Regions from separate parts of the Homo sapiens genome. Here all the other regions are linked to region 2. The links come from fine-mapping of genetic effects on gene expression. A gene starts in region 2. Each other region holds a variant in brackets. All regions are shown on one strand. Distances are between the middles of the regions. Region 1 overlaps STK39 (serine/threonine kinase 39). Region 2 holds the start of STK39 (serine/threonine kinase 39). Region 3 overlaps STK39 (serine/threonine kinase 39). Region 4 has its middle 62 kb from the start of STK39.

Evidence for each region. PIP is the estimated chance that this variant, and not a neighbour inherited with it, causes the effect.
Region 1: its variant is fine-mapped to the expression of STK39 in monocytes (TOPMed, PIP 0.97).
Region 3: its variant is fine-mapped to the expression of STK39 in prefrontal cortex (CommonMind, PIP 0.95).
Region 4: its variant is fine-mapped to the expression of STK39 in caudate (GTEx, PIP 0.96).

What each region holds. Positions count from the first base shown.
Region 1 is chr2:168,180,052-168,188,159 of GRCh38, reverse strand. STK39 (serine/threonine kinase 39) reads left to right here. Exons shown (of 18, transcript NM_013233.3): 2 at 6,070-6,182. Among named protein-coding and RNA genes, the nearest start is that of STK39, 63 kb to the left of the region's middle. The variant G/A (reference allele first, on the strand shown) is at 3,111.
Region 2 is chr2:168,243,670-168,251,777 of GRCh38, reverse strand. STK39 (serine/threonine kinase 39) reads left to right here and starts at 4,183. Exons shown (of 18, transcript NM_013233.3): 1 at 4,183-4,550. The coding sequence starts at 4,343. LOC107985959 (a long non-coding RNA gene) reads right to left here and starts at 3,817. Exons shown (of 5, transcript XR_007087282.1): 1 at 3,710-3,817. RefSeq lists silencers at 3,978-4,227, 4,438-4,487, 4,848-4,897, 4,988-5,077, 5,098-5,297.
Region 3 is chr2:168,118,028-168,126,135 of GRCh38, reverse strand. The region is part of intron 10 of STK39 (serine/threonine kinase 39); the gene reads left to right. Among named protein-coding and RNA genes, the nearest start is that of STK39, 130 kb to the left of the region's middle. The variant T/C (reference allele first, on the strand shown) is at 5,078.
Region 4 is chr2:168,305,669-168,313,776 of GRCh38, reverse strand. No RefSeq gene overlaps it. Among named protein-coding and RNA genes, the nearest start is that of STK39, 62 kb to the right of the region's middle. The variant A/G (reference allele first, on the strand shown) is at 4,005.

The sequences.
Region 1 (8,108 bases), 64 kb after region 2:
GGCAGGATTAGAATAAATCAGCTGAACCAAAGCCATTTGTTTTGTTTACTATCCATCACCAGCTAGCACCTCTAAAAAGAAAGCCTGAGCCCACTCTTGACTCTGTTCACTGGCAAAGGACAGCTGAGCATACTTAAGGAGTTCTTGCACGTGCTAAGAGATGGTCAAACTCTTATTAAAGTTCCAACTTTGTGCTTCTCATTTAAATATAATATGGTGATTAGAACTTCCTTCCAGGGGCCATAACTAATGTTACAGGCTAATGTGATGCCTTGAAAAAAATCTTGCCATTTATGGGAAGGGGTTACTGGACAATTGACGTCTTAACTTTAACGTAAAGTTCTTATGGACTAATTTTTTTAAAAAAAGTACTAGATGTTTATTGCTACATTGTTCATATGGGGATGAAAACTAGAAATAAAGGGGATACTCATCAACAGAAGGAGGGCTGAATAAATTATGGTACATTAATACTATGAAATATTACGTGGTATTAAAATGACAGATTGACAGGACACCAGTTGACCTGGGGGGATTTCCCTAAGGAGCAACGCTAGCTAAGATTTAATTAGTGCTTACTATGTGCTAGGCACAGTTTCAAAGACTTTTTTTGTGTTAACTCATTTAATCCTCACAACCACTCTATGAGTGAAGTAGCATTATTGCCGTCTTACCAATGAGGAAACTGAGGCATGAAGAAGTTAGGCAAGTCATCCAAGCATAAGCAGTTAGTATGTGGCAGGTCTGGGATATGAACCCATGCAATCTGGATTGACATAGATATTTTAAAATAACTTTTTTTTTTTTTTGAGATGGAGTCTCACTCTGTCACCCAGGCTGGAGTGCAGTGGCATGATCTCAGCTCACTGCAGCCTCTACCTTCCGGGTTCAAGTGATTCTCCCACCTCACCCTCCTGAGTAGCTGGGATTACAGGTATGCACCACCATGCCTGGCTAATTTTTGTATTTTTAGTAGAGACGGGGTTTCACCATGCTGGTCAGGCTGGTCTCAAATTCCTGACCTTGTGATCCACCTGCCTTGGCCTCCCAAAGTGCTGGGATTACAGGCGTGAGCCACCATGCCCGGCCTTAAAATAACTTTTTAAGGTTAGATATCAAAGTGCATTATACATGACAATCTTTGCTATGGAATATTAATTCACAGCTGTTTCTGAATTGGATTGTCTCTTATATTTTAAACTCTTATGCTCATCATGCTGTATCAGACTTTAGAAATCATTTAGTTCTTTGGTTTCCAAATTTAGCTCTCCTAGCCTCTCTTTTAAACCAGTCTAATCTTCCTGGTGCTAAGCAAAATGAAACTCAGTTCTGACCCTGAGCCACTTTGCCCTCTTTTCCCTTGGGTGCCATATAAACAGTAGATATAGTTTACCTCCTTTATGTCACAGATGGAGAAATGAGTCCCAGAGAGAGAGCCTAACATTTATTGAGTTGATGTTTTCCAGGGATGTGAAATATATTATGTTATGAAGCCTTAAAGGTGTATTTTATTATGCCCATTAAGGAAGCTGAAGTCTAGATAGCAGTTAGGTCGAAAGTCACAGAGGGAATCAATACCACGTTTGGATAGAATCCCTGTCTAACCTTCTTTTCAAGGCTCCTACTAACCTAAGATGGGAACTACAATGAGCTACCAGAGGCCTTTCAGTTGAATCTTGCCATTTGCTGTTGACTTAATCAGGAAGCTTCTAAGAACTTCTAATTAGTATGGCATTCTCTGCCATAGGTGTTAGTGGAAGAATGACTTTGAACAGACATTTCAAGGCTTTTGTATTAGTCTGCTTGGGCTGTTGTAACAAAATACCATATACTGAGTGGCTTAAACAACAGAAATGTATTTCTCACAGTTCTGGAGTCTAGGAAGTCCAGATCAATGTGCTGACCACTTCAGTTTCTGGTGGGCTCTCTTGCTGGCTTGTAAACAGGCACCTTCTTGCTGTGTCCTCATAGGACAGAGAGGGAAAGTAAGCTCTCTATTGTCTCTTTTTGTAAGGATACTAATCCTATTGGACCAGGGCTCTGTCCTGATGACCTCATTTAACCTTTAATTACCTCCATAAAGGTGGTAATTATCTGTTAACTGTATCTCTAAATATAGTCACATTGGGGATTAGGGCTTCAACAAAGACATTTTAGGGGAACACAGACATTCAGTCCACAACAGCATTTTAGTCATCCCTGTTAACTTCTGCAGAGGAAGTGATCCTATAGAAGGATTTATTCCACTTGAAGCAGGAATGGTCACCTTTGGCACTTTATTATCTAGTGAACTGCCTGCTACATGGCAGGGATTTAATTACTGTTTGTTGATGAATTAATATAAGCAAATATCTTTTTGCTGCTTTTTTGCACTAAATGCACTAAATGCAAAGAGGAAGTTATTGTGTGAGTCATGGGAGTAGGGACTTTGAACATACTGTTGAAACTGCATTTGACAATAGTAGTGATTTTTGCAAAATAAACACTGTAGTTTTTCATGTTAATTTCACATAGACCTTAGTGAAATGCAAAGTTAGAATACTAAATTATATTTCCATGAAATATTTCTTTGGATAACTGAAAGTATAAAATGCAGGTATGCAGTGTTCTGGTTATTTACCTTAATACCAGCAGCAGTACAGAGGGGAAAATGAGAAGAGGTGTCAACTAAAGGAAAAATCTGCATCATGGTAATGAACGTGAGCAATCTCTTACCTCTGATTGCCATTGACATAATCACTATCTAAAACTTCCAAGTAGCTGTTCTTAGTCGGGAATTACTTAGCAAAAGTGAATTGAGATAGAGTGACTTAAAAGAGTGAACTGAAAAGATTTAAAGCCGTGCCCACTTAACTTGTGCATATGTGCATACAGGCCATAATCCTATTGAATGATTTATTGCACTTGAAATAGGAGTCAGGAATAAAATGAGAAATTCATAAAATGTTAAGAACTCTTATTCCAAAAGGGGTGCATGATACTTCATTGAAAATATGCTACTAATGTTAATGAGTCATGTGTCAGTATCATATATTGTTCAAAATAAATACAAGGTGCTGTTCAGCATAGTAATTGCTCTTATTTTATTTCATGTTGCTAACACTTGTCCA[G/A]TTCCTGTATTTACAAGCCCCACATTTTTTAGCTTCCTCTTAAACTAATCAGCAAAGTGCATAAAAACCCTTAAAGCAAGACAGTGTTGGTATTATTTCTAAATGTCCTTTAGAATTATGCAGTTAGGTCACCTCCTTTCCTTTCAAAGCATGGATTTACTCTAATCCTGGGAATCCTAATCTAGTACTAGCAGACTCCAAACTTTTGATCATCACTTACAGTAAAACATGTCATACTAAAGCTTGGGCGTAAGTGAAACAAAAGTTTCATAAAGCAGTTTTTACCCTTATTACATTCTGATGCTTCCCTTAAACAATGCTGGCCTCCACCCAGTTAGTTGATTTTGTGACCAGTGGATCCTCACTGGCAATTTGAAAAAACACCAACCTGGTGCACAGAATGGTAGATAAGGAATAAGTATGCCTAGGGTCCTAATCCTGTGCTTTCCAATTGCTGCAGGAAACACATCCCTATCCTTCACAGGACCCTGTTTTCTCATTCATAAAGTGAGGGGGTGGGTTGGACTTGATGCTCTCTAAGGTGCCTTTCCACCTTTAACTTTGTTCTTGGTCTCTTCTATAGTTGAAGGGAAATCTTTGGATTTAGAGTAGAATCTCCCAAACTGTTTAATGAATGGTTAAATCCATCCATGTTGTGACAATGATCTCAGGTCACAAAGCTTCATAATTCTGTCTAGAGATGAGAAGTAGCCAGTCGTTCCTTAGTTAGCTGTAGTTGTAAAGCAGTAACAATTCTCTAGCTGTAAAGCTTTAATAAAAGATTTTTCTCACCACCTACCCCTCCATGTTTTTAGAATTCTTATTTTTTGTTCCTTGGAGGTTAGGAGACTTTTACTGTCAAGGACTTAACTATGAGAGGTATCTCTGTATTACATACGCTTGTTTTGTCCTTTCTGGGAATTAATTTATTCTTTCCTGTTTTTGAAACTCCTTGATTTGTGAATGTTCTGGAATGTAGATTAAGGATGGAGAAGCTGAGCTGGGGGGAGATTTATTGCAGGTAGAGCTGAGGATGGTTTCCCACCAGCAGCTAAAGATGTTAGTTGATTTCTCTGCTGGGTACCAGGCCCAGTGCTAACCAGCTGCATAGCACTTTCTCTGTGGCTCCCTTCAGTGATAGTGTCTTGTTCCGGAGACTGGAAAATATACTTTGCTATCAGCAGACTTTTTGTATTGTTTGGCTCTGCCATCTGGACCATTCTGGATTGAACCCAGTGGGCTGTGATCTGCAGGGCCAGTGAAGCCAAACTAGTGGGACCTGGAGTAGCAGCCAATGGGGTAGCAGCTGATGGATGAGCAGTGAGATTAGGGAGAGGAAGGCCCTTTGAAGCAACCTGTCCATAGCACTCTCTTCCCAAACAGCTCTAGCAAATGAGGCTCATGCAGACCCTGGTCTGGGTTGTTTGTCTTCTGTTGAACCATATAGGATGGAAGAAAGTTTTTTCCTAGCAAGGCCAAAACAAGTGAGGAAGGGAAGCATGTGCTCTGGCTTGTGGGAAGTAGAACAAAAGCACACATCTCGGAGTCTGGCAGGCGTGATGCTGATACTGGCTCAGGTACTTATTAGCTCTATGTGACCTTGGGCAAGTTTTCTGAGTCCCGGTTTTCTCCCATGTAAAATGAGGCTAGTAATAAAAATGTACAGGCTCATAAGGAGTCAAGTGTCTACTGTGCAGTGGGTGGTCAGTATGTGTGTGTGGATTTTCTTTCCCAGTGAACACAAATTGGGCTTCCCTGGAATGGTAGTCTTTAAGTTGGAGACCTGGGTTTGGAGGAGTAGGGTGATCTGCTGGGGTTGCCAAGTCGGGGGCCAAACCTGATGATGAGGCCACAGGGCGGAAGAAAGGGCAGAGCTTCACCCCTGTAAACACCCATTTGGGCCCTTCCTTGGGGTGGGAAAGCCCTGATTCGCACTAGAAATGTCATGCCTTTCTATCACATAAATTAGGAAGGCTAATACTGATCTCTCTTGTTGCCAAATACTCCCCTGCTTTCCCTTTTATGATGCTATTTGATGAATCATTTGAGAAGTATTACCTGAAGAAAAACTTTAGGGAGAAAGATTGTCACCTCTGACCACCTTTGCACAATCCTGAGTGCAGGCTGTTTCTGTTGTTGGCTATCTTGCAGTGGTAGAGGATTTATGTGATGAGAATGGCAGTTTTGGTGTTATTTGCAGAATTGAGATGCCTTAACCTGAAAACCTTTTTGCCCCTATGGAGTATAAAGCCGATTAGGAGTTCTTTTGTGCTCTGCCGCAAATCATTACATGTCTACATTTTGCTCTTATAAAATATGGATAATGACATGACTCTGTCTCTTAGGAGTCTGAGTGCATTAGCTAATGATCATGAAACCTTAGAAATAGAAAATTTATATGAATGTCAAGAGCTTTTGTAATTACACATTTGCATCATTTTGCTTGGCATCCTTGAAAGTTGTGCTTTCAACATGAGAATACTAGGGTTGATTCTTGTTTTTCTCATTGTGGAGCAAGCTCTGAAGAAATAAGCCCAAAGAGTGTTCAAACATCAATTATCTCAGCTTCTCATGAAAGCCTTGAAGTAGCTTAGACCAGAGTGGTTTGGTTTGGGCTGAGGTGGAAGAAGAGCTTGAGATATTTTAAAGGCACTCAAGCTAGAAAATACCAGGAACTGAGGATGGAAATGGCTTTCATGCAAGGTTGTATGTAGATGCTCATGTCCCTTGTCCCCTGTGTCCTCAGACATACATTGTCTGGAAAATGCAGTTTTTTTTTTCTCCTCCAGATAATTATTTTAGGATTTAAGAAACTCTTTAAAAAAAAGATGTCAAATGGTAATGTTCTGAATACGCTGAGTAGAAGAGTTTAAAAAAATTGATCTTTAGGAAAATAGTTACAGATAGTAACCTCACAGTGTGCCATTTGATCGCTGATGTTGTTTTTATTTCATTGCAGGCAGTGGAGCTACTGCTGTGGTTCAGGCAGCCCTATGCAAACCCAGGCAAGAACGTGTAGCAATAAAACGGATCAACTTGGAAAAATGCCAGACCAGTATGGATGAACTATTAGTAAGTAACAGTGCAGGGAATACCTGCTGGTTGCTTTTCTTAATCTATGGGTATATGGGGATGGTTGGGAGAAGAGCAAGGTGTTATCTCCAGTTTTGACATATGCATTTCTTGGAAAGCAGCCCCTACCACTTCCTGCTCCCCAGATTAATGGGACTGTACCTTATGATTGTGTTGTATAATGAACACCTTCCCTTGCTTTGAGAAACAGTATTTTGCTCAGTTCGAATAATCCCAAGGTGAGAATGGCCTCAGCGTTGGCACTCCACTTGCTGTATCAAGGGCACACACTGTGGCGTGACCTAACATGACAGGATTACTGACTGCAGTTTTGGATGGTGAGCTTCTGGCCCTCCATCTAGAATGTGTGACACAAATGGAAGTTGTCCCCCAAACTATTTGTTGGTCATTTTAGCTTTCATAAATTATAGCATCACACAAATTTGAGTTATTTTTTTTTTAAATGCTCTGTAGCTTGCATTTGGCTAATGAGAGGAGTTTGTTTTTCTTAACGTGGCAATTTGTACTTCTTATTCTAAATGAGTACTTTATATAAATAATTGGAGCTTGTCAGTGTGGATATGACTATAGTAGCAATGGTTGGTTGAAGGAACATTTGCTTTTGGCTTAGCTGACTCATTATTAAATGAACAGCTTGGCAAATGGTTATTAGTTGCCCGGCAAACTGTGAAGGGTTTGAGGGTTTAATCTCATAAATATCGTTGTTGTTCTACCGGCCAATTTTCTTTTTTTCCCTTTTGGCCATTTATTTGAGGATAATAGAAAACTGCAGTGGAGGAGTTAACTGATTGGTTATCCCCACACTAATCCCAGTACAAATATTAGTCCAGTAGCTCCATACAAGCTACAAAGTATAATGACAGTTGGCTGCAAATGAAGAAGCCTTTTGTTACAGTCTACATTGAGAATGGAATGTCATTAACAACAGCTTTTTGTCTTTACTCAGAATATAGCTTTTATTTTAGGCTTAATTACAGTACACTATAGTATAAATTAAGTACAAGGATAAAGCTGTACTTTTCCAGATCTGTTTGGCCTTACATTTTAAATTAGGCTACACAATGCATAGATTTCATTGGGTTTTATTGAAGCAATGGATTGCCGGCTAAAACTCAGAAGAGAACCAGGGCTTCCACAATTTAATGTTAATTTTTGAAATTTGCATACATTCAAGGCTTTTAACGGCCTTGAAATTTCAGCTGTGCTTTGCTCTTACTGAAATTCCTGCTGCATGCTACTTGTCTGTTGCTTGCTATCTTAGTGACCAGTAATATTGTGCCTTTGTCACCCAACCAGTTTTCAAGGTCACTTTCTCTGAGTTGGAAAACGCATTTTATAAACTGTGGGGAGAGTTGGGTCCTGCTTCTGCCACTAAACTTGTTTTCACTTTAGTAGAGTTACACAACAGCTCTGCGCGATTTAAAAAGAGTTGAATTGGAAGTTTTCTTCTAAGATCCCTTTAGGAATCCTGAAATTCTGTGGCTATGCATAAGTGTACTTTAACATTTAAAAAAAAAATTTGGAGTGTGCATTTAAATATATGTACTGTTTGGATGTATCACTCAAGAATTTGCCAGTGATAGTTGTGTTTTTGTTTTTTGTATTTTTTTGAGACAGAGTCTCACTCTGTTGCCCAGGCTGGGGTGTAGCAGTGTGGTTTTGGCTCACTGCAACCTCCGCCTCCTGGGTTCAAGCGATTCTCCTGCTTTAGCCTCCCGAGTAGCTGGGATTACAGACATGCACCACCACGCCCGGCTAATTTTTGTATTTTTAGTAGAGACAGAGTTTCGCCATGTTGGCCAGGCTGGTCTCGAACCCCTGACCTCAGGTGATCTGTCCGCCTCGGCCTCCCACAGTGCTGGGATTACAGATGTGAGCCACCGCACCTGGCTGATACTTGTGTTT
Region 2 (8,108 bases):
ATGATGGTGGTGGTGGTTTCCATTTTGTTAAACTTCTATTATGTGTCATCCATTATCCTAAGCCATTATAACAACCCATGTGGAAGCTATTATTGTACTGATTTTTGCACAGGAGAAAACTGAGACTCAGAGAGTGAAGTAAGTCCAAAGGCAGAGACTTAAAAAAAATGAGGCTAGGCATGGTGGCTCACACTATAATCTCATCACTTTGGAAGGCTGAGGTGGATCACCTGAGACCAGGAAGTTCAAGACCATCCTGGGCAACATAGCAAAACCCTGCTTCTCCAAAATTAAATACAAATTAGCTGGGCATGGTGGCACACACCTGTAATTCCAGATACTTGGGAGGCTGAGGAAGATGGATTGCTTGTGCCCAGGAGCTCGAGGCTGCGGTGAGCCATGATCATGCCACTGCACTCCAGCTTGGGTGACAGAGCAAGACCTTGTCTCTAGAAAAACTGTTGAGCTGGGCACAGTGGCTCACGCCTGTAATCCAAGCACTTTGGGAAGCCAAGGTGGGTGGATCACCTGAGAGGTCAGGAGTGTGAGACCAACCTGGCCAACATGGTGAAATCCTATCTTTACTAAAAACACAAAATTAGCTGGTGTGGTGGCACACACCTGTAATCTCAGCTATTCAGGAGGCTAAGGCAGGAGAATACCTTGAACCCTGGAGGCAGAGGTTGCAGTGAGCCGAGATCGTGCCATTGCACTCCAGCCTGGGTGACAAGAGTAAGACTCTGTCTCAAAAAAATACAACACGAAACCCCGTCTCTACTAAAAATACAAAAATAGGCCAGGCGCAATGGCTCACGCCTGTAATCCCAGTACTTTGGGAGGCCGAGGCGGGTGGATCACAAGGTCAGGAGATCGAGACCATCCTGGCTAACACGGTGAAACCCCCGTCTCTCCTAAAAACACAAAAAAATTAGCCAGGCGTGGTGGCGGGTGCCTGTAGTCCCAGCTACTCAGGAGGCTGAGGCAGGAGAATGGCGTGAACCCAGAAGGCAGAGCTTGCAGTGAGCTGAGATCACGCCACTGCACTCCAGCCTGGGTGACACAGCGAGACTCTGTCTCAAAAACAAAAACAAAAAAATAAATAAAAATACAAAAATTAGCTGGGCGTGGTGGTGGGCACCTGTAGTACCAGCTACTTGGGAGGCTGAGGCAAGAGAATCGCTTGAACCTGGGAGGTGGAGGTTGCAGTGAGCTGAGATTGTGCCACTGCACTCCAGCATGGGCAACAAGAGCGAGACTCTGTCTCAAAAAACAAAACAAAACATCGAAGTCCAGATTTGAATCCAGTACTTTCTTTCTTCAAGGCGTTGGCCACTTCACTACACATCCTCTCTTAGATGTTCAAAGGGTTTATGAATAAATAATGGAACTCTACGAAACCTCTTTGTAATACAAATAACCACTGCAATAATCTGTTTATAAAATGAAAATGTATACTTACTTCATCTAAAGCATTATTTACCCTCCAGGGGACATTTGGCAATGTCTGGAGGCATTGTTGATAGTCACAATGTCAGCAGCAGGGTTGCCACTGGCATCTAGTGCATAGAGGCCAGGGTGCCTTTGTCTGCTCTGGCTGGTATGACAAAATACCTTAGACTGGGTAGCTGACAAACAACGGAAATTCATTTTTACAGTTCTGGAGGCTGAAAGTCCAAGATCAAGGTGCCAGCAAATTAGGTATTTACTGAGGGCTTGCCCTCTACTTCATAGCTAATGCCTCTAGCTGCATCCTCATCAAGCTCCTTCCGGCCTCATTTATAAGGGCACTAATCTAACTCAGGAGGGCTCTGTCCTCATGACCCAATCTCCTGCTAAAGGCTCTTAATACTATTCCACTGCCGATTAAGTGTCAACATATGAATTTTGGGGGGACAGAAACATTCAGACCATACCACAGGAGAACAGACCTCTACAACGAAGAGAACTATCTGACACAAAACAGCGCTGAGATTGAGAAACCCTGACACATCATGAGGCAGTTGGATACACTTTAAAAACATTTAGACCCTTATTTTTCCTTTCTATTTTTAACATCGCTCACTGAATGTACTCTTTATGCATTGAAATAAACCTTGTTTATATTTTAAAGGCACCCGCCTCCATCCCCATCTTTCAATTTAAATTTAGTAATGGATTTTCCGGGAAAAGTGCATATCAGTTGAATACTTCTAAAAAACATATATTTCTAAGTTTTAAGTACCATTTTACCCAATTGTTTACAGAAACATTAACTCTAATGCTTTTGTATAATTTTAAAATATTATTCATATTCTGTTCTTCATTTATAAAAATGATGCCAAAGAGCAATGCCAGGGGACATTCTTCTTTAAACCGATTTACTGTAGAAATGATGGATGTGCACTGAGTCATCCACTCAAGCAAGTCTTCATCCTGGTAGCCATTTGGAAAGCGGTTGACTAGAGACCGACATGTAGTCTGTGACTGGGGAACAGTTGCTTTTTGTGGGAGACTAATTGATCTGTGTTTGATTCAATTCTGTGATATTGATCTTGACGGCATCATGTTTTCCTACTAAGTCCCAAGAACATTCCTGGTCTTCATAATCCCACTTCATGGTTTGAAAGTCAAAAATAGAAATTCATATGACAAAATGGAAGTCATATTCATTTGATCATTTTTCTTTTCCTTTAAAAACAGTCCTTAAAAGTTCTTTGGGGTAGGGTGGAGGCAGCACTTGAAGAGGTCAGCAGCCATGGCTTGGTATAAAGAGCTCCCCTGTTCCTCAGAGGCCTAGAATTTGTTTATGAAGGGCTCTGTTTCTTGACAGACATGACAAGACACAGTTTTTGAAGTCCTCCGCATCAAAGAATGTACACTTAGTTCAGCATGAACTTCTGCTTCAAGACCAGAGCGAGGTAGCTGCTTTACTCCAACTTTTGTAATGCTCCAAGAGATTAAGTGCCCTCATCTTCAGTGGACATCAATGTTTTGATTAGACAACTAACTTTCCTAATAAATTTCTGGGCTTCTTCTGAATAATCTTTCAAAAATTTTAGTGAGATTTCTGTACATACACTCGGGAGACAAAATCATGATATCCCTAGAGTTTTTATTACATCCTCATTATTCTTACCTATTTCTTCAGCAGTCCTAGCAATGAGAACCAGACAAGATCATCTTGGCCAAACGACCAATACTATTGGTTTACTGCCCCGTTTCAGTTGGAGACAAGAACGGTGGATCCTGGTCACCTCCACGGAGGGAACACAGAGAACATTCACTGTTAAATATGACACCTATAATTAGGAAAACCTATGGTTTTACCATAGCAGTTTTACAGACGAGGTTATTTTTGGGGTGTTGAAAAAACAGCAATTAAAAGCTTCCAACACAGTTTATTCATGCCCCAATAAATTATTTCCCCACCAAGTATACGCTCTTAAAGAAACGCCTGATGTCTGGCCTCAGTGTCCTCACGGGCTAACGTGGCAATTATTAAGGGTGTAGAATTTGAGCAAACTTTCTAAACCTCTCCTGCATGTCTTATTCTAATTCCACAGCCCCTTAAATCGCCTCCCTGGGATCCAGGCGGCTTGGAAAAAATGAAGTCTGAACAGCCAGAGACCTAAGGAATCAAGTTTCATTTACTAAGAAAAACTAGAAGGACTGCGATTAGATTAGGCAAGGTGGGAAAGGGATACCGGCAAGTAAAGCGCCGGAAACTTACAACTTGGGTTATTTTCTAACTGGCGTCTTGCAAAGGGACACCATGTAGGTATCCCGCTCGTCAACTTGTAAATGAACTTCAGGTTCTCTTTGGTGGCAGGAGAATTCTGAATGTGAGAACCTGGCGGCCGTTCAACGACCCCGCCCTCGGGGTCCCCAGGGGGCGTCCTCCGGCAAGCCTGATCGTCTGGGGCCAAGGCGCAGGGCGAGCAGGGAGGGAGGAGGAGAACCAGGGCCGGTGGCCCCGAAAGCACACACAAAGCGGCCTGACTCCTTTGGTGGGAACTTCCCCGGCCGCCAGCGGAGCGGGAGCGGGAGGGGGCGGCGGAGAGGGGGGGCGGCGGTTCCCCTCGCCGAGGCGGAGAACAGCGCGCGCTAGGCTCTGGGCGCGCGGCGAGCGCAGCGGCCGCCGCCTCCTCCCTTCCCCGCCTCCGCCGGCGCTGCCTCCTCCCTCCGCCCAGCTCGGCCTCCCTTGCTCCCTCCCCTCCTAGCTGGCTTCGGCGGGGACGGCGGCGGCGGCGGCGGGCGGGGAGGGCGTGCGCCGGCCGAGAGGTGTCGGCGGCGAGGCAAAGGAAGTTTCAAGTGGAAGGTCGTCCGTCGGCCGGCGCGTCCTCCTGCTCTCCTCCGCAGCATCATGGCGGAGCCGAGCGGCTCGCCCGTGCACGTCCAGCTTCCCCAGCAGGCGGCCCCGGTGACAGCGGCGGCGGCGGCGGCCCCGGCGGCCGCGACAGCAGCGCCGGCCCCGGCAGCTCCCGCGGCCCCGGCCCCGGCCCCGGCCCCGGCGGCACAGGCTGTCGGCTGGCCCATCTGCAGGGACGCGTACGAGCTGCAGGAGGTTATCGGTCAGTGCGGCGGGCGCGGCGGGGCCGGCACAGGCCGGGCGCCGAGGCCGGGCGGGAGGGGGCGCGGGATGCTGGGCTAGCCTGCATGCACGCCCTGGAGGCAGAGAGGCCGGCTTCGGGGCCTACTGGCTTCAACAGTTTTTTTTTTTTTTTTTTTTTTTTTTTTAATTTTTAATGTATTTGTTCGTTCTATGAGCGTTGGTGCTGCAGGAGGCGGCGCGGCGGATGTGACTCGCACTGCAGACGAGCCGCATGCTGCAAACTTTTATCTCAGGGATCGCCGGGGCGGTGGAGCGGAGGACCAGGCGGCGCCGCCGCATCTTCCTCCCCCCGCGTGCCGGGACCGCAGCCCGTGGCCGGTGGCCACGCGGACAGGCAGCCGCGGGTGGGGTGTGGTTGCGGGGGCCCCGCCCTGGGTTTCCAGGGCCCCGGGGGCCGCGTCCTGGGGGACTCTGCGGGCGCAGCCGCTCCTCTGCCTCCCGTCGTGACCCTCTCGTCGTGGGTAACGGGGCCACGTAGAAGCCGCGGAGGCCCCAGTGCTTTTCTGAGGCCGGGGAGGATGCTGGCCTCTCTTCCTGACAGCCGCCACTCCACGCCCGCCTTGCAGCCCGGCTCTCCGCGCCACTCGGCGCGCCCGGGTACCCGCCTCCCTCCGTGCCAGGGTGCGCCGCCTGCCGCCCAGTCCGGCTCCCCGGGGAAAGCGGGTGCCCTGGCCTCCTGCCCTGCACCGGGCCGATGCTTCCCTCTGTTTCAGGCCGAGCTGCAAGAGTGAAATCCGAGGCTGCCGGTGATCTGCTCTCTGCCTTTCGTTGCCTTCTGGCCGGCTCACAAATATCACCTTATCTTACATTTTTAAATACCTGGCAGAGTCGCAGGGCTCGGCGTTACTTTTCCTTGGGCCAAGCACTTGAAGGGCCAGGAGATTTGTTTTGTCCCTTGACTTAGAACCTTCCCTATTGGATCATCCAGTTTGAGAGTCTTGTCACTTAGGGAAGCCTCCAGGTTAAGTGGGCCCTCAGCGTCTAACCTTACTGACGCAGGGATGGGATGTTGCCTTTCCAGAATCTTGGTATATAAGTACAGCGATGAAAAAGGAGTTCAGAATATTTATCTTAAGTATTTTTTCTAACTTTCACTTCAAAAAATTCTTCACCTCCTTTTAAAAAAATTAAAACAGATATAAAAATTTCACTAGGTGTTTAAATGAGCCTTTATCACCTGCTATTGGGGAATAAAACAGCATAGACGGAAATATATATATAAATATATACATAAAAATATGTGAGAAAATGTTGGGCAGGTCCGTAACCTAGGATATATACAAGCTTCAGATAACCTATAATAGGCATCTGTAGACAAAATTCTTTGAAAACCCAGATCTTTCATAATTTTTGACCAAAGACTCTAAAGGGATGAGTCTTCATGTCACTGCCTGAAATAGCTTCAGGGGCTTCTCAAAGCCTGGAATATTCCATGGAAACCTCTTTAACCTGGCATATAGGCCCTGTACCCTCAACCTGCCTGCCTCCTCCCATTGTCTACTCTTCAGTGATTGCTTCCTGAATACACCGCTGTCTTCCGCACATCTGGTCTTCCATTCTTTGCTGCCTTGCAGAGGCTCTTCCCTCCTGTGAGTGCCCATCTTTGTGTACTAAATCTCACTCCGCTTCCAAGGTGAGTGTGAATATTCCTTGAAAAGCCTTCTGCTTCTTTCAAGGCAAAATGCCGTGGTTTCTTCTGCCCCTCTTTTTACAGACCTCATAGCATGTAACCTCATAGTTGTTATTTGCGCAACAAGATCTGAAGGCCTGCTGTGTCCCAAGCATTGCCCCACTTGCTAGCAATATAGAAATTAACAAAAGTGATCCCTGCCCTAAGTTGTTAGGAGACATAGGGAAAGGATCCTATAGGATGTGATGAGTAAGTACTGGGAGAGCCCGAAGGAGGGAGTGACTGCCAGGAAAGAGAAGGAAGCAGAGTATTTCTTAGTAGAGGTCGTAGTTGAGCTGGGTTTTAAGTCTGAGTTTGTAAGGTGCTTAATTATTTCCACTGTTGCCTTCACTAACCAGCTGTGAACTCTGACAGGAAGAGGTGGGCCATAAAAGTTGAATAATGGTATCTGCCACATAATTCTCCATAGAGTCCATAGGATTGGGAGAAGTTATAATCAATTTATATACCTACTTGGTCAATTATTAGGGTTAAAATACAAACGTTGCCTTTTGAAAACAGTATTTTTTTGTGAACTAATAAAATCTTAGTTTAAGTTGAGTGGGATTAATGGCAGGACTTCTTTCTGTTTGCAGTCCCAGCAGTGTTAATTATGGTTGGTCAGTTTAGTGGAAAAAAAGAAATTTACCTGAGGAATTTGAGAACAAAAACACCTGCTTATTCTACCCTGACTTTTGCGCATTTGCATTGTGGGAAGGGCTTTTCTACATTTAAAGTTTATCTCATATTTTCCCAACTAAAAGAGAAAGAGTTGGCCTGTGTGGAGGCCCTGTTATTGAAAAATCAAATTGCTGGAATAGGTTTTTCGCAAGGGCTTAATGTTTATAAGGAATTACAAACCTGTTTCCATTTAGGGTTTAATGCTAGTTGAGAGATTAAGACTGAACTTGTGGTTAAGCACTTTTGCTTAAACATTACACGCAGAAGTTAGCAGTTCAAACACTGAACCAGTTTCAACATGAATGCCAGTTGACAGCCTTTGCTTCTACCCGCCATACGGCAGGTGTCATATGATATGACTCCAGCAGTGTGAACCGTGACCAGCAGCAGGAGGCTCAGATGTGCCTGAACAGAAAACCAAAGGAGGCACCGTGTTTTAACTTTCCAGCATGGCACGGGCACGGAGGACTTTTTCTTCATTTCCTTCTGGGCAGAGTTTGGTCCCCCAGGATTAAGAGAGAATAAGTTTACTAAAATCCAAACAAAGCAGGTTCAGTTGTTTGACTTCAGTTTTAGAAAAATAAACACAGGATTTTGCAAACCTAAAAATAAAGTTTTCTCTTTATTGTATTGTTGTTCTTGTGTTTTAAAACGTCAGTGGAGAAATTGTAATGCTCTTAGGAGTATTCTGGTTCATAAGTTTATTCATGACCTGGAAATGATGTAAAATCGATGGGAGGGAGCTTTATATTTACAGAGGGGTTAAAAATGTTGGAAATTATTAAATTCCTTCTTCCAGACATTGATATCCTTGTCTTAGTAGATTTCAAATATTTCTGTCTTTTTGGAGGCTTTCCGACCTGTTTATACTCTTCAGCCTTGTTAATCTTTGTTCCTTACCTCTCTAAAGAAGGAATTTGGGGGTGAGTTGAGCCCCCAAAAGTAGGTACCCCTACCTTTAGAAGTATAAGGGGCACTTAAAGCTATGCCAGTTGAAAACTTAGTTTATTTGTTGGGGGTGTTAATAATATTACCTAGATTTGCTAAACAGGGAATGAAAGTGAATCATATAAGTGTTTACTTGGCCATCCGTAATGGAATGGAGCAGCCTCAATGAACTTCTCATTCAAAGAATTGTAGTCATTGAAGTACTAATTTCTGTATTTG
Region 3 (8,108 bases), 130 kb after region 2:
CCTGTGGGCAGGGCTCTTGGGCATGGAGGCAACCATGTTGATTAGAAATTTGCTGTCATAAACAGCATTCTCTTCTCCTCTCTTCTGCTAACCAACATTAAGAGATAATTTTCAATGTGCATTTTTCTTTAATGTGAACAATTTTCATATTTAAAGGAGAAGAGGGGCTGGTATTGTGGCTGTTCTTAGAAAGCCCCATGGAGCCCACCAGTGCTGCCCTTTAGCAGGAGAGAAGCAGAGGCCCGTCATACTCATGTTTGGCCAAAATGTGATGTTTTTGTTGGGAGCCACATAATTCCACGAGGGTAGGTGATCTTGTCTTCATCCGGATTGACTCCTCTAAATCACGAAAAAATAGAAAATGGAAAAAGATCGACATGGCCTCTTTGGTAATTTAGTATGCAAAACATTTTTTTTGGGTGTGTGGTAATTGTAGAAACTGAGGATATTTATTTTCTTCCTACAGGCAGAATATTTGGTCCATTCTGGGTTCTTTTGCTGACAGTGTTGTTTAGGGATCATCTTGATTTTCTTTGGCTCTAGTCTGAGGGGCCCAGGCATGTGGTGAAGGGTAATATAAGATTGGATGTTCCTGGACCTCAAGACACTCTATATATTCTAAATGAGAACATGCTAGTAATGACCCATGAGAACAGAGCTAAGTGCAGCTGTATAACTTTTTTTTCAAGTTTTCACTATCTTTGTGCATGAGAATAAAAGGCTTTGTAGCCATCGCTGCCTCTCCTGTGACTTTCTGAGGGACCTGTCTCCAGCCATGTCTTGGGGTTTGAAAGCTTAACCACGTGGTGTTCCATCTTTTACTGTACTGAATTCATTAGGTGGGGAAGGGAGTCAATGGTTCAGTTAAAATTGAATGTAGATGCTTAGGGCTGTGTGCATCTTCTTTTTTTTTTTGATTATCAAAATCAGTTCTTATTATATCCTTTTCTTTGTATTACAGACAGTATCTTGCTATTTTTACCCATGTTTCACATCAACTCTTTTGTTTTATTATTATACTTTAAGTTCTGGGATACATGTGCAGAACGTGCAGGTTTGTTACATAGGTATACATGTGCCATGGTGGTTTGCTGCACCCATCAACCCATCATCTACATTAGGTATTTCTCCTAATGCTGTCCCTTCCCTAGTCCCCCACCCCCCTACAGACCCCAGTATGTGATGTTCCCCTCCCTGTCTCCATGTGTTCTCATTGTTCAACTCCCACTCATGAGTGAACATGCAGTGTTTGGTTTTCTGTTGCTGTGTTAGTTTGCTGAGAATGATGGTCTCATAATCTGTGTGCATCTTCTACAGGAACATTTAACCCTCAGAATTGGCTGATGTCTAAGTTTTATGTTAGTGATAACATACTTGAGGCACCACACTCACACTCATATTCATATGCTTTCTGTGGCTTTCTAAAACCAACATATGGGTTGGGCGCAGTGGCTCACACCTGTAATCCCAGCACTTTGGGAGGCCGAGGTGGGAGGATCACTTGAGGTCAGGAGTTCAAGACCAGCCTGGCTAACATGGTGAAACCCTGTCTCTACTAAAAATACAAAATTAGCCAGGCGTGGTGACACTTGCCTGTAAACCCAGCTACTCGGGAGGCTGAGCAGGAGAATCATTTGAATCCGGGAGGCAGAGGTTGCAGTGAGCCAGGATCGTGACACTGCACTCTATCCTGGGCAACAGATCGAGACTCCGCCTCAAAAAAATAGAAATAAAAAATATAACCCACATATGGCAGGACAGAGGGCAAGGGGCTCGTAGCTATGCAAATGTCTGAATGCTCACTGCTCATCCAAAAAACATATTGGCCATAGGAGGGAATGAAGAGGAAACATGTAATAGGCAGTTCTTTCCCTTCTTATGGTTGCCTGTGTTTTCACTGGAAGTAGATTTACTGGAGGGTTATTGCTTGAACTTTCTTAATCATGAAATTAAGTAAGCAATTAACTAAACAGTACAATGTTTAGTCATTATCAGAAGGAGGTAAAGGGTATCACATCGCTGCTGTCTTTGGATGGAACCGCTGTGAAGTGGAAAGACTGGGATGTTATTTGTGGGTCCCAGAATTTCTAATATTAGGCTATGAGATTGGTTTCATGCCAAGGCCCCAAGGCCCTTGGCCCCACTGGATCCACTGATATGCTTAGGAATCAGTGGGTAGGAATATTTCAATTCACATTTATTTAATACTTACAAGTGTTGAGAACTTGTCCTGTTTGTTTTTAACTTTTTTTTTTTTTTTTTTGAGATGGAATCTCGCTCTTTTGCCCAGGCTGGATGAAGTGCAATGGCGTGATCTCCACTCACTGCAACCTCCGCTTCCCAGGTTCAAGCGATTCTCCTGCCTCAGCCTCCTGAGTAGCTGGGATTACAGGTGCCCGCCACCATGCCCGGCTAATTTTTATATTTTTAGAAGAGACGGGATTTCACCATGTTGGCCAGGCTCTCTTGAACTCCTGACCTTAAGTGATCCTCTGACCTGGGCCTCTAAAAGTGCTGGGATTACAGGCATGAGCCATTGGTGCCTGGCTTGTTTTTACTTTTTCTTATGAAATAATTTCAGACTTACAAAAAAGTTAGAAAAATAGTGCCAAGAATTTTCGTATGTGTTTTCTCTTACTCTTTATTTTGAAACATTCCACAGTAGGTTGCAGACAGAATGCCCTTTACCTCTAAATATACTTCACTGTATATTTCCTAAAAACAAGGATACTCTCTTACCTAGCAACAGTACAGTTTTCAAAATTAGGAAAAGAACATCGATGTAATACTATTATTTTTTAGATCTTATTTGAATTTTGCTACATTTGCCAATTTTCCCATTCATGTCATGTATCTGGTCCAGGATTCAGTTCAGAATTATTGAGTTGTTACACCTCCTGTAGTCTCTTTTAATCTAGAACAGTGTTTCTTTTCCCATCTGTGACTCCTTTGAAGAGTATAGGCCAGTTATTTTATAGAATGTCCCTCCGTTTAGGTCTGTGTGATATTTCTGAATGATCAGATTCAGTTTATGCACTCTTTGATAGACATACCTCAGAAGTGATGTTGGGTTCTTCTCTGTATCATATTAAGAGGCACATGGTATTGATTTATTCCTTTACTGGCAACGTTCACTTTGATCATATGCATAAGGTGGGACCTTCCAGTTTCTTTATTGTAAACACAAGTATCACTTCTTAATAGGATGGATTTATTTACATTCACTGATTACATTAAACATTAAAAGATAAAGTGAATATATTTACTGTATTGAATCATTAATCTTTTTTCAAGGAAACATTTATACTTTATGTCATGGCTCTACATTCATAGGCTATTAATGAGGAATTTTATTGATAGATAGAATGATAGAAATCTTGTGTATAAAAACACCTTGTTGGCTGAGTGTGGTGGCTCACACTTGTAATCCCAGCACTTAGAGAGGCTGAGATGGGAGGATTGCTAGAACCCAGGAGTTTAACACCAGCCTGTGCAACATGGCAAGATTCTGTCTCTACAAAAAAAAAATTTAGCTGGGCATGGTGGTGTGTGCCTGTGCTTCCAGTTACACAGGAGGCTGAGTTGGGAGGATTGATGGAGCCCAGGAGGTTGAAATTGCAGTAAGCCATAGTCACACCACTGTACTCCAGCCTGGGTAACAGAGCAAGACCCTATCTCAAACAAAATCAAACCCAAAATGACAGTACACTGGATAAAGAAAATGTGGTACATATACACTATGGAATACTACACAGCCATAAAAAAGAACAAGATCATGTCCTTTGCAGCAACATGGATGGAGGTGGAGACCATTATCCTAAGCAAACTAGCACAAGAACAGAAAACCAAATGCCGCATGTTCTCACTTATAAGTAGGAATTAAGCACTGAGTAAACATGGACACAAAGAAGGGAACAATAGACATGAGGGCCTACTTGAGGGTGGAGGATAGCAAGAGGGTGAGAATCGAAAAACAACTTACTGGGCACCACACTTATTACCTGGGTGATGAAATAATCTGTACACCAAACCGCCACAACACGTAATTTACCTGTAAAACAAACCTTCACATGTGCCCCTGAAACGAAAATAAAAATTTTACAAAAACCAAAACAATACAAACCACTTTGCTAGCAGATTTAGGCAGGAAGTGGAGGTGCACCTGCTGCCCCAGTCTCTATGCCTGGTCTGGAAACAGCAAGAGCTATATCTGTATCTTTTGTTGGGTGAGCTGCCTAATCTCTCTGAGCCTAACCTGTAAGGCAGAGCTGACAATACTTACATTGTGTTGCTGTGAGGATGAGAGATGATCTGTGCAGGATGTCTGGTGCCGTGTTTGACACATAGCAGGTGCTCAGTCAGCAGTGGCAGTGTGATTGTCATGTAAATAAGGAGAATGATTATTGTGGCTACGGAAGACTGGACATTTTAGAAGTATGTAGTGAAATCAGGAGTGAAGAGAGTGTCCTGTAGGTGGGGTGGGGTGCAGATGGGTATTGAAGGTTGTTTCTGCATTGCCGTTAATTTGGGTGAAATGGAGGAAAAGCCTATGGATGCCTACAGAAAGAAGGAAAATAATTACAGTAGTTAGTTCATTGCCATTGCCTATTCACCTGTCTTCATGTTTTCTTTTCCGATCCATCAAGGTGCTGGCAGTGGGTGAGAACCAGGGCTTTCTTTCACTACAGTAAACCCTCCCTGCCCTGAGAAGGGGCGTGTATGTGTGAAGAGCCTAAGAGTAGTGAGAATTAAATACAAACACAGCCAATATTCTTTCACAGCTTTCAGATCACTTTCATTTATGCTTCCATATTTGTCCCAAACAATTGTTCTTGAAGACAGGTAGAGCAGGTGTTACTGTCACACTTTACAGATGGAAATGTGAGAGGTGAAAAGGACCTGCCCAAAGTCACATGGCCAAATAAGCAGGAGTGAACTCCAGTTCTTATTCTCAATCTATGCTCTTTCCACCAAATCATACCTCAGAATGAAGAAGAAGAGAACGGAGAGGACAGGAAGGAAATATAGATGGAGAAGGTAGGCAGAGTTAAGTGGTGTACACAGGAAAATGGGAGCG[T/C]ATTTGTCATTCTCAGAGTGAGTCGGCCACCATTTAAATTGTGTGAGGAGGATGTCTGTGCTATTCACAGGCACTAGGAGATGCTACAGGCACTAGGAGATGCTGCAGGCATCATTGCAGGAATCTGGGAAGTTTGCCAGGGTTCTAGCAAGTGTAGAGGGAAGGAGGTGACAAAAAGGCTTTGGAGATTATGTTGGGGAGAGAGATGGCTAGTGAGAGTTTGGTTAGCATCAACAGTTGTTAGATACCGTCAGAAGCTCAGCTTCTCACTCATGAAGTGGTAATGGTAATAATAGCTATGTTTGGGAGGACTAAATTAGGTAATACATAATATAATAGTGGTTGGGACAAAATAATAAGTGGCACAGGTTATAGCAAAATTTTTTAATAATCACATATATTGCTTTTATTACTATAGTTATTATAGTCCAGATTGTTTTTGTAACATTTATGATTGCTGCCACAGCTGTGGGCACCCCTGCTGCTGTTCCCATTTCTGCTGCTGCTAGAACAGCTGTTTCCATTACAACCACTGCTACCAGTAGTGGGCACTCAGGTGCACATGATACAAGGACATAGCACAGACAGTGAAACTCACCTTTCTGTGAAGAACGCACAAACGTCACAAGACATGCAAAACTCAAAGAGTAATAGAGAATAAGCGCTTTGGTATGTGGGCATAGCATCTGTGCTACAGCTACGGGAAAGGTCATGAAGCTGGTAGATGGGGGACATGTGAAGGGGGAAGAGAGAAAAACGATATTTATTGTGCACCTTTATGCATCCTGCTAGATGCTTACGTCACATTTATCTCAATTACTGCAGCCATACAACAATCAGTAAAGTTCTGAGTATAAGATATGTTAAATAGGTTAGGCCAGAGGATAAGATACATTAGACTATTAAGAATGATTTTTAAAAAGCTATAAATATTTTGAAATACCAACAGAAAAGGAAAAACCATCTATTAAAAGTGAGTTAAGCTATCCCTAAAGGGTTACAGGATTTTAAAATTGAGAACCACAAATATCTCCTAGTTTTCCATGCTTCTGTGTACAGGCCTGAAAATTAAGGCCTAAGGAGGTCGAGCCTTAACCAAGGCCAACTGCATCATCATGTCCTAACAGTCCAAAGCCAGTATCCCAGTTTGTTACCATTTAGTTTCTTCTTTTAGTCGATAAAGAGGGAAAATTACCCTGAGTTTCTACAGAATTGCTTTTTTCCCCTCCTGGAATCTTATAATTAACTTATAAAATATCGAAGGTTATGCATTATCATTAAAGCAGAGAAGAGAGAGTGATTTCAAATGCTTGATGGAATGATGTTAGTTTTGTTCCAAGTTTTCCCAGTAGAGGGCAGCAATGGGTTTTAAGTCTGTGCCATTGTGGAAAGCTAACTGAGCAAAAGTTTTGGCTTTGTCGAAGGCCTCAGACTTGGAGTTGAGGGATCAAAGGGGTGTTAGGTCCCTACTGAGCCATGAACAAGAGACACCTTAGTCAATTAGGGTGCTACTTTACTGGGCAGGAGATTGAAGGGTGATGGTTTAACGACTTTTCACTATTACTATTTTTAAGTTATATTTTCTATTAGCAAATCAAAGCAATCTACCATTTGCATTTTACATAATTCGTGTCAGAAACAAACATCTCAATTTTGAAGATGGGATTGGAGAGCTTCCAGTATTTTGTGGTCTCAAGCTATTTTTAGAAAATTCTTTGGTTTCTGCAGTTCTCCTTAGAGCTTGGTAAATACGGGTAGAAGAGAGTCAACATGTACAATAATAACAGTGAAGGAGAAGTGGACCCACTTCCGCAGTTACCGTGCATATTATGGGTTTAATATAAAATACTCCCAGTGATCCACATCGGCCTGAGTGCACATGTCCTCTCTCCACTTTGTGTTTCCTTTTCCCATCCTCTCGCTTAAAACCGACCATGTGCCTTGGGAATAAATCTCATTGAGGAACTCACATGCTCACAGGGAGGAGGGCAAGGGTGGTTGAGGATATTATTTTTCCTATTTTAGAGCTGAGAGAACAGTAGGCCAGAGAGGTTAAAGTTACTGATTTCACTGGGGCTGTTACAGGGACAGGCGTTCACAGAGTGTGAGCTCATTGGTGTTTTCACTGCTTTTTTATTTTAAATTCTTTGCTTTTTAGTTATTTGAGAACTGAGAGTTCCTTTGGTCAGAAAAGAGCTTTTGGTCACTAGGGGGTGCTATTAGAACAGTTCATTGACTAAGAATCTGGACAGGAATTGCTTACCAGTCTGTAAAAAGCCTTGCAGCCGTAGATTTTTTCCTTTTGCTCTGTGTCTGTGGCTTGACTGGTGTTCGCACTGGGGGTGAATTAGGCAGAGGTGAGGGTAGAGGAAAGAGCAAGGGGGAAAAGCATCTTACAGAGTTACTTTCAATTCATTTGGTGAATTGAGTTGTTGTTTTTTTTTTTTTTTTTTTTTGAAAGCATATGTTCTGGGAAAGTGACTCCTTTCTGGTTGCCTTTGACTGGGAGCTGAGAGGATCCACTCTGGAAATTGTAATTTGCTGATCCCCATTTAGGGAGAATGTCTTTATTTTTAGATTGATCTTGAAAGACAGTGAGCTGTGTAAACTTTCACAGACTTGGAGGTCCAGTTTTGGATATTTAGAAATAATGACACATACTCTGAAATTATTGTAAGAGATACTGTTTCTACAAATTTAGTTTGTAGAAAACTAATTGTTACTGGAAATCACATCCAGTTAGATTTGTGAGGTCTGGATAGTCTTCAAACATATTATGTGCTTCCTTTTTGCCTTTGGGAAATTTGCTAACTTTTCCCAAAAGCTTGCGTGCATGAGCTAGCTTTTCTGGAACTGAAGTGGCGTGTTACTTGCTGAGAGAAGCTCCCGACTGCCTCCTCCTCCTCCTCCATCTGTCCATGCAGTGCTCCCCGAGCATCCTGGTAACCTACTAGGTGCTGACCTTCCCTACGGTAGGTGGCCTTTATTCAGCCTCTCAGCTCCCTCTAATCCTAGTGTACCATTTCTTTCC
Region 4 (8,108 bases), 62 kb before region 2:
TTTCATACCTCATTCCTTCATTTAGGAAGCTTATTTTACCCCTTAGGCAAAATTCTTGCTATTATTTGAGTTCCTTTATTCCTATCACTTCTTTGGTGAAGACAGGAAACATACTGTAAAAGAAATCCATCACTGACTTCAAATTACCCACCTCAGTGTCTAAGTAGTTAATTTTTAAAGGGCACAGATCCCACTGTGCTAAGTACAATAGAAATAAATAATGTATATCTATGTGTTTCTCATGCACTTGTCCTTACCCATATTGTATGGATGAAAGATTTAATCGATCTTATTTTGGACTTAGAGACCAAGCCAGTCACGCACTGTTATTAACTTTTGGAACAAATATACTTCCTTCAGTGCATAATTCTTTTTAATATTCAAACTCACAGGAGAAAACTCCTAAGGCATCGGCCTGAATTTCATAGCACTTGTTTACTCACATATCCCCTTGGTACATTTCTGATATATGACTTTCCTTCTTCAGTAGCAGGCATTTTAAATTAAACATGATTTTGCATGATACTTTTCTAGACTATATATAGACTTGCATAGGCTTTGTATTCTTGAATAAATTATTGTTACACTCGTGACAAATCTCTCAAACCGCTATATTAGAGAGTCTGGGGGAAAATATCATATTCTTTTTTAAGTTAGCTGTAAGTTTTCATCGGAGTGGAAAATACTTCATTGTACAAACCACTAACTAAATTTAAATTGTAATTCTTTTCAAACATGTTCTTCCAGACTCGGTTTTTAAAGTATGTTTACTAAAACCCAGGTATGTCAATTGTTTATTAAAAGACCTTTTTATTACAAGTTGTACAAATTAGACTTCCTAAATATGTTATTTTCCAAATGAAATATCTTAGCCTTTTTATCACAGAATCAAAAACGAATCATTTTTCTTTCCAGATTCACTTCAATTACCTCAAAATTATATTTGGCCATTGGATTTATTTCTGAGTGGTCAGACATTCAAAAAATAATTTTAGAGAATGTGTGCCCAGTGAGTGTCAGAGAAGAAAAACGAATCTTTGGCACCTAACTTTAGTTCTTGTGGCAGAGAATACAATTGTCCAATATGAGTGTGCTTCTAAAAATAACTGTGGGTAAAACTGTGGCTCTGTGGTAAATTAAAGTATCTCCTATAAAGATGATTGAGCTTTATATATATATTTAGCTTTTGGGATGAGACAAAAACCAGAGTCTGTTGGATAAGACTATTAACCAAACTCAGTCCTGTTTTAGTTGAAGGCAAGTTATCAAAGAGATAGTCTGAAGAAACCAAGTGAGTTCACATTTATTTTTAATTTTCAATTTCTATACACAGTAAGGTCTTCTTTTTAAGGGCAAAAAAAGCACATTTCATAAATGAATCAATTCATGGAACAGCTCTGTGAGACAGGTCATGTTGACAGAAAGATGGGTTAAGGAGGGGTGGAGTGTGGAGACTGTCTCTCTGCACTCAAAATTCAGTGTGTGTTAATTTTGGAGAGAAATTATTTATGTTACCACTGCAAATGTTTAACTTATAAAAGCCACACTGTGGAAGGGGGAATGGCTGATGGGTTAGGCTCATCCAGCAAAAATATCTGGTTCTCAAGTTTATAGCAAGCTTTTGTTTTGATAAAAGAACAAAAACACATCTTTTTAGTTTTTTTAAAAAATGCCAGATGGAGTGTTTTGCTTTGTTTTGTTTTTTTAAAGAGGAGTCTATTAAACTGACATTTAAACTCAGAGTTCAGGAAAAAAGATTCATTCTAGAAATGAAGTTTGGTTAATTTCTTTCTTAAGGAATAATTAAGGCCAATACTCTATCTGCCCAATACAGTAGTTACTAGCCACATGTGCTATTTAAATTTAAATTATTTAAAATTAAGTAAAATTGAAATTACTTAAAATTAAGTAAAATTTAATTTTCAGTTTCCCAGTTACATGTGCCACATTTCAAGTGTTCAACACATGTGGCTAGTGGCTACCATATTAAACAGCACAGATAAAGAACATAGGCAGCTGTAGTCTAATAGCTCACCCCGGAGCTTTTGTATAAATAGCCCACATTTAGAAATACTCCAGGAGGCAGAAAAAGCTGGCAGAATAGAAGCCTATGCCCTTTGTCTCCTCTGCAGGAACACCACATTTTAACAACTATCTGCACACAGAAAAGCACTGTCACAAGAGCCAAAAATCAGGTGAGAAATCATAGTACCTGGTTTTAATATCATATCACCAAAAGAGGCATTAAAGAGAGTTGGAGAGACAGTCTTGAATCACCAACACCACCCCTCCCCCATCCCTGGGCAGCAGCTGTGCAGGGTGGAGAGTCTGTGCACTTGGAGGACTTTACATTGAACTCACTGCTGCCCTGTCATAGAGGAAAACAAAACCATGCTGGGTTCAGCCAGCACCTGATCAAGGATGGGACATTTGGACCAGACCTAGCCAGAGGGGAATTGCCCATCTGGTGGTCAGAACTTGAGTTTCTTGGCAAGCCTTGCCACCGCAGGCCAAAGTGCTCTTGGGTCTTAGGTAAACTTGAAAGACAGTCTAGGACATGAGGCCTGCAATTCCTAAGCAACTCCTAGTGTTGAGCTGGGCTCAGAGAAGAGGACTAGGGTGACCTGGTACCTCACCAGCTGGAACAGCTAAAAGAGTGCTTGTGCCACTCTTTCTTCAACCCTAAGCAGTGCAGCTCACAGCAATGAAAGTGACTCCTTCCTTTTGCTTAAGGGGAGGAAATAAAAGAGTAAACAGGACTTCATCTTGTATCTTGGATACTAGCTCAGCCACAGTAAGATAGAGCACTGGGCAGAGTTATGAGGTATCCCCCCATTCCAGACCCTGGATCATGGACATTTATAGACACACTCTGGGAACCCACTGGAAAAATGGGAACCCCTTGCCTTGAAGGGAAGGACTCAGTCCTGGAAGGATTAATCACCTGCTGACTAAAGAGCCCTTGGGTCCTGAATAACCAGCAGCAACACCCAAGTAGTACACTGTGGGCCTTGGGCTTTGAGAATGTGCTGAGTTCAGGTGTGACGTGGCACATTTCCAGGTGTGACAGCTACAGTGAAAAACTCCTTTAGACTCCTTCCATTTGAGAAAAGCAGAGGGAAAGTAAAAGGGACTTTGTCTTGTACCTTGGGTACCAGCACAGCCACAGTGGGGTAGAGCAACAAGCAGGCTCTTGCAGTCCTCGAGTCCAGGCCTAGGCTCTTGGATAGCATTTTAGGGCCTGCCCAGGGCATGAGGGTAGCCTACTACCCTGAAGGATGAGTCCTGGTCCTCGTAGCATTCACTACAAACTGACTGAAGAGCCCTTGGGCTTTAAGTGAACATCTGCAGTGGTGTGGGAGAATACACCCCTCACCTCTGGGCCTGTGGTGGCAGTGGCCACAGGGAGATGCTCCTCTGCCTGTGGAAAGGGGAAGGAAGAGCAAGAAGGATTTTCTCTTCTGGTTTGAGTGCCAGCTTAGCTGCAGTAAAAAAGAACATCAGGCAAAATCCTAAGGTTTTTTACTCCAATCTCTGGCTCTCAGACAACAGCTCTGGACCTGCCCAGGGCCTTGAGGAACTTGTTGCCTTTAAGGGAAGGGCACAAACCTGGCTGGCTTTACCACCTGCTGATTACAGAGCCCTGGGGCCTTGAGTGAACTTAGGTGGTAGCCAGGCAGTGGTTACAGTGGGCCTTGGGTAACCTCGGTGCTGTGCTGGCTTCAGGTCTGACAAAGTACAGTCCCAGCAGTGGTGGCAACAGGGGTGCTTATATCACCACACCTACGGTTTCAAGTGGCTCAGCACAGAGATAGAGAAAGAGAGAGACTCCATTTGTTTGGGAAAGAGTCAGGGAAGAAAACAAAAGTCTCTGCATGGTAATCCAGATTATTCTTCTGAATTTTATCCAAGGTCACCAATGTGGTACCTCTGTGAGTCTGCAGGAACCATAGTGTTATTGGGGTTGGGGACCAAGTTGCTCTGAGTACCTGGAAAGCCTTGCC[A/G]AGAAGACAGACACAAACAAGCCCAGACTGTGAAGACTTCAATAAATACCTAACTGACACTTAAAAACATCCACAAGCATCAAGACCATCCAGGAAAATAGGACCTCACCAAACAAACTAAATAAGCCACCAGGGACAAATTCTGGAGAACCGAAGATATATGGCCTTTCAGAGAGTTCAAAATTTCTATTTTGGAGAAATACAATGAAATTCAAGATGACACAGAGAAGGAATTCAGAATTCTATCAGATAAATTTCACAAAGAGATTAAAATAATTGAAAAGAATCAAGCAGAAATTCTGGAGCTGAAAAATGCAACTGACATACTGAAGAATGCATCAGGTCTCTTAATAGCAGAATTGATCAAGAAGAAGAAAGAATTAGTGAGCTTGAAGGCAGACCATTTGAAAATACACAGTCAGAGGAGACAAAAGAAAAAAAGAATAAAAAAGAATGAAGCATGCCTACTAGGTCTAGAAAATAGCCTCAAAAGGACAAATCTAAGAGTTGTTGGGCTTAAAGAGGAGGTAGAGAAAGAGGAAGGGATAGAAAGTTTATTCAAAGGAATAATATCAAAGAATTTCCCAAACCTAGAGAAAGATATCAACATTCAAGTGCAAGAAGGTTATAAAACACCATTTGACCCAAAGAAGATTACCTCAAGGCATTTAAGAATCAAACTCCCAAAGTCAAGGATAAAGAAAGGATCCTAAAAGCAGCAAGAGAAAAGAATCAACATACAATGGAGCTCCAATACATCTGGCATCAGACTTTTCAGTGAAAACTTTATAGGCCAGGAAAGAGTGACATAATATACTTAAAGCACTAAAGAAAAAAACCTTTTATCCTAGAATAGTATATCTGGTGAAAATATCCTTCAAACATGAAGGAGAAATGAAGACCTTGCCAGACAAACAGAACCTGAAGGATTTCATCAAAACCAGAACTATCCTATAAGAAATGGTAAAGGGAGGTCTTCAATGTGAAAAAAAAGAAATGTCAATGAGCAATAAGAAATCATCTGGGTAAGGCACAGTGGCTCATACCTGTAATCCCAATACTTTGGGAGGCCAAGGTGGGTGGATTGCTTGAGAACAGGAGTTTGAAACCAGCCTGGGCAGCATGACAAAACCCGATCTCTTCAAGAAATACAAAAATTAGCTGGGTGTGGTGGTGTGTGCCTGTGGTCCCTGCTACTCAAGAGGCTGAGGTGGGAAGATCACTTAAGCCCAGCAGGTCAAGGCTGCAGTGAACTATAATCACACCACTGCACTCAAGCCTGGGTGACAGAGTAAGACCCTGTCTCAAAACAAGCAAACAAACAAAATCTGAAGGTACAAAACATACCGGTAATATTAAGCTTAAAGAAAAATACAGGCCAAGCATGGTGGCTTATGCCTATAATCCCAGCACTTTGGCACGTCAAGGCGGGTAGATCACAAGGTCAGGAGATCAAGACCATCCTGGCTAACACGGTGAAACCCTGTCTCTACTAAAAATACAAAAAATTAGCTGGGCATGGTGGCACATGCCTGTACTCCCAGCTACTCGAGAGGCAGGAGAACTGCTTAACCTAGGAGGCAGAGGTTGCAGTGAGCTGAGATCATGCCACTGCACTCCAGCCTTGGCAACAGAGCAAGACTCTGTCTCAAAAAAAAAAAAGAAAAAAAGAAAGAAAGTTAAAAAGAAAAATACAGAATATTATAATACTGTACTTGTGTATAAACTACTCCTAAGTAGAAAGACTAAATGATGAACGAATAAAAAATAATAACTACAACAACTTTTCAAGACATAATAAGACCTAAAGAGAAACAGCAAAGAACTAAAACGTCGGGGGATGAAGTTAAAGTACTGAGTTTCTGCTTTGTTTTGTTTTGGTTTTTGCTTATTTGTTTATACAATAAATGTTAAGCTGCCATCAGTTTAAAATAATGGGTTATAAGATAGTATTTGCAAGTCTCATGGTAACCTCTAACTGAAAACCATACAATGGATACACACACACAGAAAAAGCAAGAAGTTAAATCCTATCACCAGAGAACATCACCTTCACAAGAAGGAAGGGAAGAAGGAAGAAAAGACCACAAAACAATCAGAAAACAAATAACAAAATGACAAAAGTAGGTCCCTACTTATCAATAATAACATTGAATGTAAATGGACTAAACTCTCCAACTAAAAGGCACAGAGTAGCTGAATGAATGAGAAAAAGACCCCATGATCTGTTGCCTACAAGAAACACACTTCACCTATAAAGATAAACATAGACTGAAAATAAAGGGATGAAAAAAAATATTCCATGTCAATAGAAACCAAAAAAAGAGGCAGGAGTAGCTATACTTATATCAGATAAAATAGATTTCAAAAACAAAACAGTAAGAAGAGACAAAGAAGGCCATTATAATGATAAAGGGGTCAACCCAGCAAGAGGATATAACAATTGTAAATATGCATGCACTCAGCACTGGAGTTCCCAGATATATAAAGCAAATATTATTAGAGCTGAAGAAATACACCTCAATACGATAATAGTTGGAGACTTTAACACCCCATTTTCAGCATTAGACAGCTCTTTCAGACAGAAAAAATCAACAAAGAAACATCAGACTTAATATGCACTATAGAACAAATAGACCTAATAGATATTTACAGAATATTTCAGCCAATAGTTATAGAATACACATTCTTCTCCTCAGGCACATGGATTATTCTCAAGAATAGACCATATATTAGGTCACAAAACAAGTCTTAAAACATTCAAAAAATTGAAATAATATCAAGCCTCTTCTCTGGCCACAATGGAATGAAACTAGAAATCAACAACAAGAGGAATTTTGTAAACTATATGAACACATGGGAATTAAACAATATGCTCCTGAATGACCAGTGGGTCAATGAAGAAATTAAGAAGGAAATGGAAAAATTTCTTGAAACAAACAATAATGGAAACACAATATACTAAAGCCTATAGGATACAGCAAAAGCAGTGCTAAGAGAAAGATTTATAGCTCTAAGCACCTACATCAAAAAAGAGGAAATTTAAATAAGCAACCTAATGGTGCATATTAAAGAACTAGAAAAGCAAGAGCAAACAAAACCAAAAATTAGGTGAAAAAAATAATAAAGATCAGAGTAGAAATAAATGAATTTGAAATGAAGAAACAATATAAAAGATCAATGAAACAAAAAGCTGTTTTTTTGAAAAGATAAACAAAATTGACAAATCTTTAGCCAGACTAACAAAGAAAAAACAAAAACAGAGAAGACTCAAATAAAATCAGAGATGAAAAGGGAGACATTACAACTGATACTGTAGAAATTTAAAGTATCATTAGTGGCTACTACGAGCAACTATATGCCAATAAATTGGAAAATCTAGAGGAAACGGATAAATTCCTAGATGCATAAAACCTACCGAGATTGAACCATGAAGAAATCCAAAACCCAAACAGACCAATAACAAGTAACAAGATCAAAGCCGTAATTAAAAGTCTTCCGGTAAAGAAAAGCCCCAAGACCTGATGGCTTCACTACTGAATTCTACCAAACATTTAATGAAGAACTAATATCAATCCTACTCAAACTATTCTGAAAAATAGAGGAGAGAATACTTCCAAACTCATTCTATGAAGATGGTATTACCCTGATACCATATCAAGAAAAGAAAACTACAGGCCAATATATTCAGTGAATATCGATGGAGAAATCTTCAACAAAATACTAGCAAACCAAATTCAACAATACATTGAAAACATCATTCATCATGACCAAGTGGGATTTATCCCAGGGATAAAATATGGTTCAACATATGCAAATCAATCAGTGTGATACATCATATCAACAGAATGAAGTACAAATCAATATAATCATTTCAATTCATGCTGAAAAAGCATTTGATAAAATTCAACAGCCCTTCATGGTAAAACCCCTCAAAAATCTGAGTATAGATGGAACATGCCTCAACATAATAGAAACCATATACAACAGACCCACAGCTAGTATCATATTGAATGAGGAAAAACTGGAAGCTTCTCTTCTAAACTCAGGAATACAGCAAGGTTGCCCACTTTTACCACTGTTATTCAACATAGTACTGGAAAT